Linked DNA regions of Homo sapiens: region 1 is linked to region 2. The links come from fine-mapping of genetic effects on gene expression. A gene starts in region 2. The other region holds a variant in brackets. All regions are shown on one strand. Distances are between the middles of the regions.

What was found.
Region 1: its variant is fine-mapped to the expression of FARSA-AS1 in lymphoblastoid cells (GENCORD, PIP 0.92).

Annotation. Positions count from the first base shown.
Region 1 is chr19:13,370,826-13,376,198 of GRCh38, forward strand. It overlaps CACNA1A (calcium voltage-gated channel subunit alpha1 A), which reads right to left. Exons shown (of 47, transcript NM_001127222.2): 4 at 863-954. Among named protein-coding and RNA genes, the nearest start is that of CACNA1A, 130 kb to the right of the region's middle. The variant A/G (reference allele first, on the strand shown) is at 2,930.
Region 2 is chr19:12,927,596-12,932,968 of GRCh38, forward strand. FARSA-AS1 (FARSA antisense RNA 1) reads left to right here and starts at 2,927. Exons shown (of 3, transcript NR_149078.1): 1 at 2,927-2,951. It overlaps FARSA (phenylalanyl-tRNA synthetase subunit alpha), which reads right to left. Exons shown (of 13, transcript NM_004461.3): 2 at 3,017-3,154; 3 at 2,834-2,932; 4 at 2,628-2,746; 5 at 1,160-1,252; 6 at 940-1,068; 7 at 747-862.

The sequences.
Region 1 (5,373 bases), 440 kb after region 2:
GGCCTCAAGTGATCCTCCCAAAGTGCTGGAATTACAGGCATGAGCCACCATGCCTGGCTAAATTATTATTATTAACCAAGACAAGAAGATAGAAAAAGGACAGCCCTGTTTTATTTTTGCTTTTTACATTTTTTTTTGGCTCAACCTACACTTAATCTTGACCCTGCATATGGCAGCCACCCTTAAACGGGGACTAGATGTATCTGTGGAGAATGAGAAAGCAGCAAGGAATGAGTATGAATTTTAGAGCTCATTACTGTCCACTCTAAGAATTCAGGTGAGTAATTTAACCTCCTTAAGCCTCAACCGTCTCATCTGTAAAATGGGTGTTCGCTGGGTGACTGTGAGGATGAAATAAGGTAATTCATGTAAAGTCCTTCTGTAGTGCCCTGCACGCAGCAGGCACTCATTAAATGGGAATGGTCATTGCCACCAGTGGTACGGCCCAGGCTTGGAGTCACACTTGCTCACTCCTAGTTCTGCCACTTCTCAGCCACAAAACCCTGCTCCAATGTTTCAGCCACTCTGAGCCTCAGTTTCCCCCTCCATAAAATAGAGACATCAGTCCTATCAACTTCATAGGGCTGTGAGTACTGAATGAGATCACACGTGGTGCTTAGCATGGCTCCCGATAGACAGTAGGTGCTCAATAAATGGGTGTGGCTCCTAGTTTGCTTTCAGGAGCTCATGGGGAGCTACAGTCATATTCCTAGGGGGTTCCCTATAGGGAGTCCCAAAGAAGAGACTGCCCTCACACAGGCTGGTGGCAGGATGTGGCCTCCTGAGATGCTCTGCATAGGGGAAACTGAGGGCTCCTGGGGCCCGTGAGCAAACCCCTTGTCAGGGTCGGAAACTCACGCACTTGGGATTCCAGACACCAGCTTGAGCGGCCGCAGCACTCGAACTGCCCTCAGCGTCCGTAGGTCAAACTCCGTCCCAACTGTCGCCAAGATGCTGAAAGAAAGAAGCCAGAATGGAGAACAGAGGGTGGGTTTTGGGGGTCAGACAGCAGGGCGGGGGTGCTTGGGATTCCAAGCTGTCCTGTATTGGTTGGGTGACCACAGGCAGGTGACTCGACACCACTGGCCTCAGTTTTGTCACCTGTAAAATGGTCTTAACAGTACCTGCCTCACGGGATAAAAGGTGATTTACGAAGACCCCCAACAGATGGTTCATGTTGCACAAATGTTGCAATGAGAGAAATGGAATCTTCCCCATGGCTCAAGGTTGGGGTGACATTCAGTATATTTCACAACCTACAATGACAATAGATTGTGGGGTGGCCTGGGGCCCTGGGGGAATGGCAGACCTTTCGGGGTTTGTGGCTCTTTATTTTATTTTATTTTATTTTTTTGAGACAGAGTCTCACTCTGTTGCCCAGGCTGGAGTGCGATCTCCAATGGTGTGATCTCAGCTCACTGCAACCTCTGCCTCCCGGGTTCAAGGGATTCTCCTGCCTCAGCCTCCCGAGTAGCTGGGATTACTACGCACCCGCCATCATGCCCGGGTACTTTTTTTTGTATTTTTGTAGAGACAGGGTTTCACCATGTTGGCCAGGCTGGTCTTGAACTCCTGACCTCAGGTGATCCACCCGCCTCGGCCTCCCAAAGTGCTGGGATTACAGGCGTGAGCCATGGTGCCTGGCCTGGTTTGTGGCTCTTTAACAAATGGCAGGAAAGTAGTTCAGTGTTAAGAGCCCAGCCTGCATGGGTTCAGATCCCAGATCTGCCACTTTCCAGTTGGGTAACCTTGGGCAAGGGACATCCCTGCTCTGTGCCTCAGTTTCCCCCTTTTGTATAACCTGGATAACAATAGTATCAATACCTCCAAGGGTTGTGAGGATTCAGTAAGTTGACAAAAAGTGGTCAGCACAATGCCAGGCACACAGGTTACCGGTATGCTAACCTATTCAGAAATAAATAAGAAAACAAAAAAATGGGTGTGATCCTGCTTGTGTGGACCAGCCAGCATCAGCTGGCTAGAAGGCAGCTACAGACCCCAAGCCTCTGGTCAAAAAGAGTCCCTTTTGTAAATGCAAGTTAGTAAGGATGATAGCAGTAGGTGGGATGAGGCTTCCATAGAAACCCTCCGAGCAAGACCCTGTCATGAGACCTCATTTGTAAAAGTATTGCTGTTGAAACACAGGGTCCCACCTGGCCCTGTTTCCTGAACATGTCCATTTCAGAGCTAAGTGATGTACAGTGCGTGGTCAAGGCACAATACAATAAAAGAGACTGTCATCAGAACTTCATATAATGGACAAGAAATGCTGAATACCAGAGGGTCTGTGGTTAATGGAAGGTTGGTCACAGCAAATAACTTGGGGATTTTTCAGTTTATTTTTATTTTAGACATGGGGTCTTGCTCTGATGCCCAGGCTGGAATGCAGTGGTGCAATCATAGCTCGCTACAGCATTGAACTCCTGGGCTCAAGCAATCCTCCTGCCTTAGCCTACTGAGTAGCTGGGATTACAGGTGGGAACCACCACATCTGGCTTGATTTTTCAGTTTTATCCAGGGGCTTGGGTCTTAACACTTCAGTCTGTGGCCAACTGGTATCTGTACCTCTTGCCTTAGGGCTGTCTCCAAATCTGGGGCAGGCCCAGGGAATGAACTTTAAGGGAGCAGCCCTCAACCAAAGATTGCTGGGAGTTGGTGGATCAATACCGCAGCTCCCTCACCCTTCATTCTGGATCACTTAAGAGGTGAGTTCCACGTGGGCTCCCAGTAGGACGGAGCTCAGTTGCCTACAGGACAACTCACCCTTCCTTGCCCCACCTCCCCTCTCCTTCTCCAACCCTTCTGGGGTCACCTCTCAGATGAACTACTTGCACAAGGATTGCCCTAAATTCTTGTTTCAGGATCTATTCTGGGTCATCCTAAACTAACACAAAGCAAGTTCCCAACTTTTTTTCTCAAGATTACCCCT[A/G]GAGGAGAGATGGGCATATTAGGTTGGGCTGACCTTTTCCACCATCCACAAGTGGGCGTCTGAGCGTATCCTATGTGCTGGGTAGAGTGACATATGAGACTATCCCTGCCCCATGGAGCTGATGCAGAAGAGAAGTGGTTAAGAAAAACATGCACACAATGAGTGAATCTGTTGCAGGTGTGATGCCTTCTCAGCTAGGAAGACAATGGCTTTGAGGGGCACACAGCAGGTCGTGTTAACTAGTCCAGGGCCTGGGATACCCCCTACTTCAAGTCAAGTTCCCATAGATGAGGGGGAGAAATCTGGCCAGTGGGGAAAGAACTTTCCAGGCTGAGAGTGGCCATGACAGAGAGCTTGGGACTGAAAGAGGGCTTGGCAAATTCAAGAAATGACATGGTGTCACCACTGGGATTTGGATGGTGAGGTTCAAGCAGCAAGTCATGAAGCCAGAGTAGGCAGGGGCCATGACATACAACTTTACAAAAAATGAATTTATTTATTTTTATTTTTGGAGACAGGGACTTATTCTGTCACCCAGGCTTGAGTATAGTGGTGCAACAACAGCTCACTGCAGCCTCAACCTCCTGGGCTCAAGCGATCCTCCCACCTCTGCCTCCTAAGCAGCTGGGACTACAGGTGTACAACAACATATTCAGAAAATTAAAAAATTTTTTTTGTAGAGATGGGGTCTTGCTATATTGCCCAGGCTGGTCTAGAACTCCTGGCCTCAAGTGATCCTCTCACCTCAGCCTCCCAAAGTGCTGGGATTATAGGTATGAGCTACTGCACTTGGCCCATTCAACTTTTAATTTGATTTACTTTATTTTTCTCTTCTCCTCCCAGCTTTCTGGTACTAATTTGGGTTCCTCAAATTCTGACTTAGAGATCACTATTCTCTTCTTGCACCTTGTTTTCTTCTGTGCTGGCACATAAAAGCTGTCAGGGCATGAACAGCAAAGAACAGGCAGTGGTTAAGTCCTTAGTATTTCACTTCACAAACATCAACTGAGCACTAATAACAAGCCAGGCCCTATCTCTGTGTGGGGGAGACTGAGAGTAAACCCAATAAATATAAGCAGGCTTTGTTTTGTTTTGTTCTAGAGATGGAGTCTCCCTGTGTTGCCCAGGCTGGCCTCCAACTCCTGGGCTCAAGGGATCCTCTTGCCTTGGCCTCCCAAAGTGCTGGGATTATGGACGTGAGCCACCACACCGGCCGAGGAAGACTTCATTTCATTGTGCTTTGCTTTATTGCAATTTGTAGATATTGTGTTTCTTACAAATTGAAGATTTGTGGCAACCCTGTGTCAAGGAGGTCTATCAGGGCCATTTTTTTTCCAACAGCGTGTGCTCACTTTGCGTCTCTGTGTCACACTCTGGTAATTCTTACGGTATTTCAAACTTTTACATAATTATTACATCTGTTATGGTGGTCTGTGATCAGTGATCTTTGATGTGACTATAGTCATTGTTTGGGGGTGCCACGAACCACATCCATAGAAGATGGCAAACTTGATCGATAAATATTGTGTGTGTTCTGACTGCTCTACCAACTGGCCATTTCCCCATCTCTCCCGCTTTCCTTGGGCCTTCCTATTCCCCGAGACATAACAATATTGAAATTAGGTCAGTGTATAACTGTACAATGGCCTTTAAGTGCTCAAGTGAAAAGAAGAGTTGCACGTCTCTCACTTTAAATTAAAAGCTAGAAATGATTAAACACAGTGAGGAAGGCGTGTCAAAAGCTGAGATAGGGCCAGGGATGGTGGCTCATGCCTGTAATCCGAGCATTTTGGGAGGCTGAGGTGAGAGGATGGCTTGAGCCTAGGAGTTTGAGACTAGCTTGGGCAAAATAGGGAGACCCTATCTCTACAGAAAATAAAAAAATTAGCTGGGTGTGGTGGTGCACACCTGTGGTCTCAGCTACTTAGGAGGCTGAGGTGGGAGGATCACTTGGTCCCAGGAAGTCAAGGCTGCAGTGAGCGGTGATTGCACCACTGCACTCCAGCCTGGGCAACGGAGTGAGACCCTGTCTCAAAAACAAAACAAACAAACAAACAAAAGGCCATAAGCTAGAGGTTAGCCAAGTTGTGAATGCAAAGGAAAAATTACTGAAGGAAATTAAAAGGGCTACTCTAGTAAACACATGAATGATAAGAAAGTAAGACAGGCTTCTTGCTGACATGGAGAAAGTTTTAGTGGTCTGGATAGAAGATCAAACCAGCCACAACATTCCCTTAAGCCAAAGCCTAATCCACAGCAAGCCCACAGCAAGACTGAGAGAGGTGGGGAAGTGCAGAAGAAAAATCTGAAGCTAGAAGATCTTGGTTCATGAGGTTTAAGGAAAGAAGGTGTCCCCATAATATAAAAGTGCAAGGTGAAGTGATAAGTGCTGATGGAGAAGCTGCAGTAAGTTATCCAGAAGATCTAGCTGAGATTATTAATGA
Region 2 (5,373 bases):
GTGGCGGGTGCCTGTAATCCCAGCTACTCAGGAGGCTGAGGCAGGAGAATCGCTTGAACCCAGGAGGTGGAAATTGCAGTGAGCTGAGATCGTGCCACTGCACTCTAGCTTGGGCGACAGAATGAGACTGTCTCAAAAAAAAAAAAAAAAAAAAAAAAAAGCCAGGTGCGGTGGCTCACGCCTGTAATCCCAGCACTTTGGGAGGCCGAGGCAGACTGGAGTTTGAGACCACCCTGGCCAACATGGCAAAACTCCATCTCTACTAAAAATACAAAAATTAGCTGGGCATGGTGGTATGCACCTGTAATCCCAGCTACTCGGGAGGCTGAGGCAGGAGAATCGCTTGAACCTGGGAGGCAAAGTTTGCAGCGAGCCAAGATCATGCCACTGCACACTCCAGCTTGGGCGACAGAGTGAGACCCTGTCTCAAAAAAAAAAAAAAAAAAAAAAAAGACTGCAGGTGGCATAATGAGAACAGAGCTTGACACATCCAACAAGGATGGACTTTAATTTAACTCAATTAATTTTTTTAGAGGTAGATTCTTCCCTATGTTGCCTGAGCTGGATTTGAACTCCTGGGCTCATGCAATCCTCCTGCCTTGGCCTCCCAAATAGCCGGACTACAGGTGCACACCACCATGCCCAGTTCTAGACCTAATTTGATCAAATGGGATGCCCATCCTGTAAAGGCTCCGCCGTGGCCTGGTGTCTCTCATGTCTCAGGGAGGCCCTAGGGGCTGACCCACCTCGAAGGAAGAAGGTGTCGTGCTGGTCACGGGCTGGGTGCTGCTGGGGCTGGAAGAGGGCGTCAAAGTTCCAGAAGGAGCTCTCAATGAAGTTATCAGTCGGCATCTCGGTGAACCTGGTGGGAGACACAGCCTGACTGCCCTGCCTGTACCCAGCAGAAGCACCAGGCACCGCCCCCAGCCCTGTGCTCACCCCATCTCCAGGAAGATCTGTCGGAACTGGGAGCGGACCTTGAGCAGCGGGTGAAGGTGGCCGCTGTCGGGGAGGACACCGTGGGCCAAGAAGTTGTAGGGCTTGAAGGGCCGGTCCCGCCAAGAGCCACTGGGGGAGGATGCAAGGGCCTGGTAAGGGCTGCCCGCCCCTGCCCCCTGCCCCAGCTCCCACCTGCCCTGACCCTGGGGTTGCCTGCTACCTGGAGATCATCTCTGGGCTCAGCTCTGTCTCTTGCTTGGAGATGCTGGTACTAAAGGCACTGCCTTTGCTCACCCAGTAGGTCTTCAGAGTCCTGTGGCCAGGGGAAGGAAGGGGACGCCACTGCCATCTCCTCCTAGAGGACTTCCTTGATCTCCCGTCTGATGAGGATCCCCATGCTACCTACCAAGTCACTCTGCTTTATTTCCATCCTGACATTTATCACTACCTGAAATCCTCCTATGTGACCATGCTGTATCTCCCTGTATTCACTCACTGATTCATTCAACACTTACTGAGAACCTAATGTGTGCCAGGGTCTGTTCAAGGTGCTAAGTACACGACTGAGTGATGATACTAGGGAAAGTCTAGCAGATTTATTCTGTGCCAGGCTCTGTTCTGCAAAAGTCTCCCCACAAGCCCCGGAAAGAGGGCAGTTTTTTTTATTTGTTTGTTTGTTTTCCTTTTTTGAGACAGAGTTTTGCTCTTGTTGCCTAGGCTAGAGTGCAATGGCACGGTCTCAGCTCACTGCATCCTCCACCTCCCAGATTCAAGCGATTCTCCTGCCTCAGCCTCCAGAGTAGCTGGGATTACAGGCACCCGCCACCACACCCGGCTAAGTTTTGTATTTTCAGTAAAGACGAGGTTTCACCATGTTGGCCAGGCTGGTCTCGAACTCCTGACCTCAGGTGATTTGCCCGCCTCGGCCTCCCAAAGTGCTGGGATTACAGGCATGAGCCATCGTGCCTGGCCCCTTTTTCTTTGAGATGGGGGTCTCTCTATGTTGCCCAGGCTGGCCTTGAATTCATGGATTCAAGTGATCCTAACACTTCAGCCTCCTGAGTAGCTGGGATTACACACGTGAGCCACACACTTGGCCCAGGCTATTTTATAGATAAGGAAACGGAGACCAGCAAAGGCCAGGTGACTTGGCCAAGGTCATAAAACTAGTTAAGTGACAGAGCCCGAACTTCAGTTAGGCATCCCAGCTCTAGTCTCTTCTCTCTGCCACTCTGTGTCTGCTCAAAGGGGACATTTGTCCTGTGAGAGGACGGCCCCTAGCCCATCTAGGTTCCAGAGGCCTGTCTGGTGTGTGTTCATTAAACTTTGGACCACACTAAGGACAGTGAAAGAAATGAACAAGCACCAAAGATGAAGACTAGGGGCGATGGGCTTCATGGAACTCAAGGGGAGAGGAGGGCTGTCAGGGTGGCCTCTTTAAGGGGACACAGGAGAGAGACTTGATGAGGAGCCTATCTTGAAGATCAGAGGGAAAACAGTTCTCAGCAGAAGGGTCCTCATGGGCAAAGACCCCAAGGCACGTAGGCTTGACAACTATGGCATTAAGCGAGCTGGGAGGAAACTGGCCACACCTGTGCTTGGTGTGGGCAAGATGTCTCCCTCCCACCATGCCTCCACCATGCTTCGCAGGTGGTGGGGGCCTGAGCCTGCAGGGGGCACCCACTCACACTTCAGCCAACAGCTTCCTCTTCCTCAGCTCGCTCCTCTCCTTCTCCCCCAGCTTCTCAGCCTGTCCCCCCCGGACCAGCTGGAGCCGCCGCTGCACCTCATCCTCCATGCTGTCCACCTGCCAGGATAAGGAGTGTGAGGGGTATGAGGGCCAGGGGCCCATGTGCCCGTCCACCTGCCCCCTGACCAGCCCGCAGGAACGCACCACTCGGAACACCCGGGGCCCGTCAGCCGCACTCTTGTCCACCCGAATCCACTTGTTGGACATGGCCTTGCTGAAGCCCACTTTGCCACTGGGCAGTCGCTGGAAAAGAGAGGCTGCAGTGAGTGGGGCACGAGGGCCACCTTCATCCCATCACTCACTCCCCATTCACCCCGCAGCTCCTACCATAAGCTCGCTCTGGGCCAGGCCCTCTGGGGGAATGCTTCGAAACACACGGGCCTCATGGCTGCCCTCCCGGGCAATCTCCTCGCCCTCCGCAGTAAGCTCCCAGTGCTTGGTGGACCGAAGTTCAGCCTCGATGACCTAGAGGGAAATGTGGGGAGGGTGTCCAGGCAGGGGTGAGGCTCAGAGCCAGGCACCCCCTTTCTGCAGCGCTGGGTCCCAGGTTGAAAGCACAGCCCTTAAAGCTAGGTTCACATCCCAGCTATACAACTTTACAGCCAAGTGGTCTCAAGGGAAAGACTTCCCCTTGCTGTGTCTCCATTTCCCTTATGTAACACAGGGGTAGTAATAATGATAGTTTACACCTCCCAGGGTAAAGTACACCACTAAAGATGTTACCTGGCAGAAGACAAATTCTGTCGGTTTTGAACCTGTGACAGATTTTAATGTGAAAAATTAGGTGAACTGATATGTCTCCACATTTTTTTGTTTGTTTTTGTTTTCTTTGAAAGGGGGTCTCACCCTGTCACTAGGCTGGGTGCAGTGGTGTGATCATAGCTCACTGCAGCCTAGACCTCCTGGGCTCAAGCGATCCTTCCGCCAGTCCCGAGTAGCTGGGACTACAGGCATGTGCCGCCACACCTGGTTAATTTTTAAATTACTTTTTTTTTTTGAGACGGAGTCTTGCACTGTCGCTCAGGCTAGAGTGCAATGGTGCGATCTCGGTTCACTGCAACCTCTGCCTCCCGGGTTCAAATGATTCTCCTGCCTCAGCCTCCCGAGTAGCTCGGATTACAGGTGCCCACCACCACCCCCAGCTAATTTTTGTATTTTTAGTAGAGATGGGGTTTCACCATGTTGGCCAGGCTGGTCTCAAACTCCTGACCTCGTAATCGGCCGACTCCGCCTCCCAAAGTGCTAGGATTACAGGCGTGAGCCGCCGTGCCCGGCCCTTTAAATTACTTTTTAAAGACAGGGTGTTGTTATGTTGTCCAGGCTGGTCTCAAACTCCTGGCCTCAAGTGATTCTCCTTCCTCAGCCTCCCAAAGTGCTGGCATAATGGGCATGAGCCACCATACCCAGCCTGTCTCCATGTTTAAATGTTCACATGTCAGTGCCCAGAATGTCAGAGACGGGCCCTGGAGGTCCACATTACAAACAAAAACTGAGGTTCCAGGTCCAGAGTCATGAAGACAAGGACAACAAGGGTAAGTAGAGTGCACAGGGCCTGGCTCCCACTTCATTCTAATCCCAACTCTGCCCTTCACTTACTGTGTGACCTCAGGAAAGTTGCTTAACCTCTCAGTGACTCTTCTCATCCATAAGAGAAAGGTGTGATGGGTTCTACCTCAGATGATTTTAAGGAGTAGCTAAATTAATACTCAGAAAGAATATATAGTGCCTACCACGTGACAAACACTGCATAAATTTTTTTTTTTTTTTTTTTTGAGACGGAGTCTCGCTCTGTCGCCCAGGCTGGAGTGCGATCTCGGCTCACTGCAACCTCCACCTCCCGATTCAAACAATTCTCTGCCTCAGCCTCCCAAGTAGCTGGGATTACGGGTGCCCACCAACACGCCTGGCTAATTTTTTTTTGTATTTTTAGTAGAGACAGGGTTTCATCATCTTGGCCAGGCTGGTCTTGAACTCCTGACCTCGTGATCCACCCGCCTTGGTCTCCCAAAGTGCTGGGATTACAGGTGTGACCACTGCACCCGGCATAAATTCTAATTACTATAATTATTTTTATGGCTATTACTGTCATTAGATTGAACCTCACCTCCTTATATTATTTAACCCTCTGTGACGTATACAAATGTCAGATCATATTGGTCAAGGCACTGTCACCCCACACAACACAGCTGCCATCTCTCCTCTGCATTGAGGACTATGGGCTCTGCAGCCTGAGTGCCTAATTTCAAATCTGGGCTCATCGGCCTCTTCTATTCACACTGATTATGTTACTGACCATCAGTTGTCACATCTGCAAAATGGGAATAACATGGCCATCAGCCAGGATTATGGAATGGATTGGACAAACAAGCTGAGACCAAAGTGGGGCACAGAACATGAGCTCTACGGATAAACAGCCCAGATCCTGGCCCCATGGATCTAGCCTTCTGGGTGGCCCACGGGCCCCTCAGCATCCTACGCCTGTGACTCTGTCACTGTCCACTTGCCCAAGTCAGAAGGCTGGACTTCATCTGTGCGCCCCCTGCCTTGTCCTGAATCCCACGCCTTCCCCACCTCCCCCAAGCTTCCTTCCCATAGCCAGACATCATGCCCTCCAGCTTGGGGAAGTGCCAGCTTCTTCTTTCATCCCTTCACCTCCAGTCCTGTCCATGCCAATTCTTCCCAAA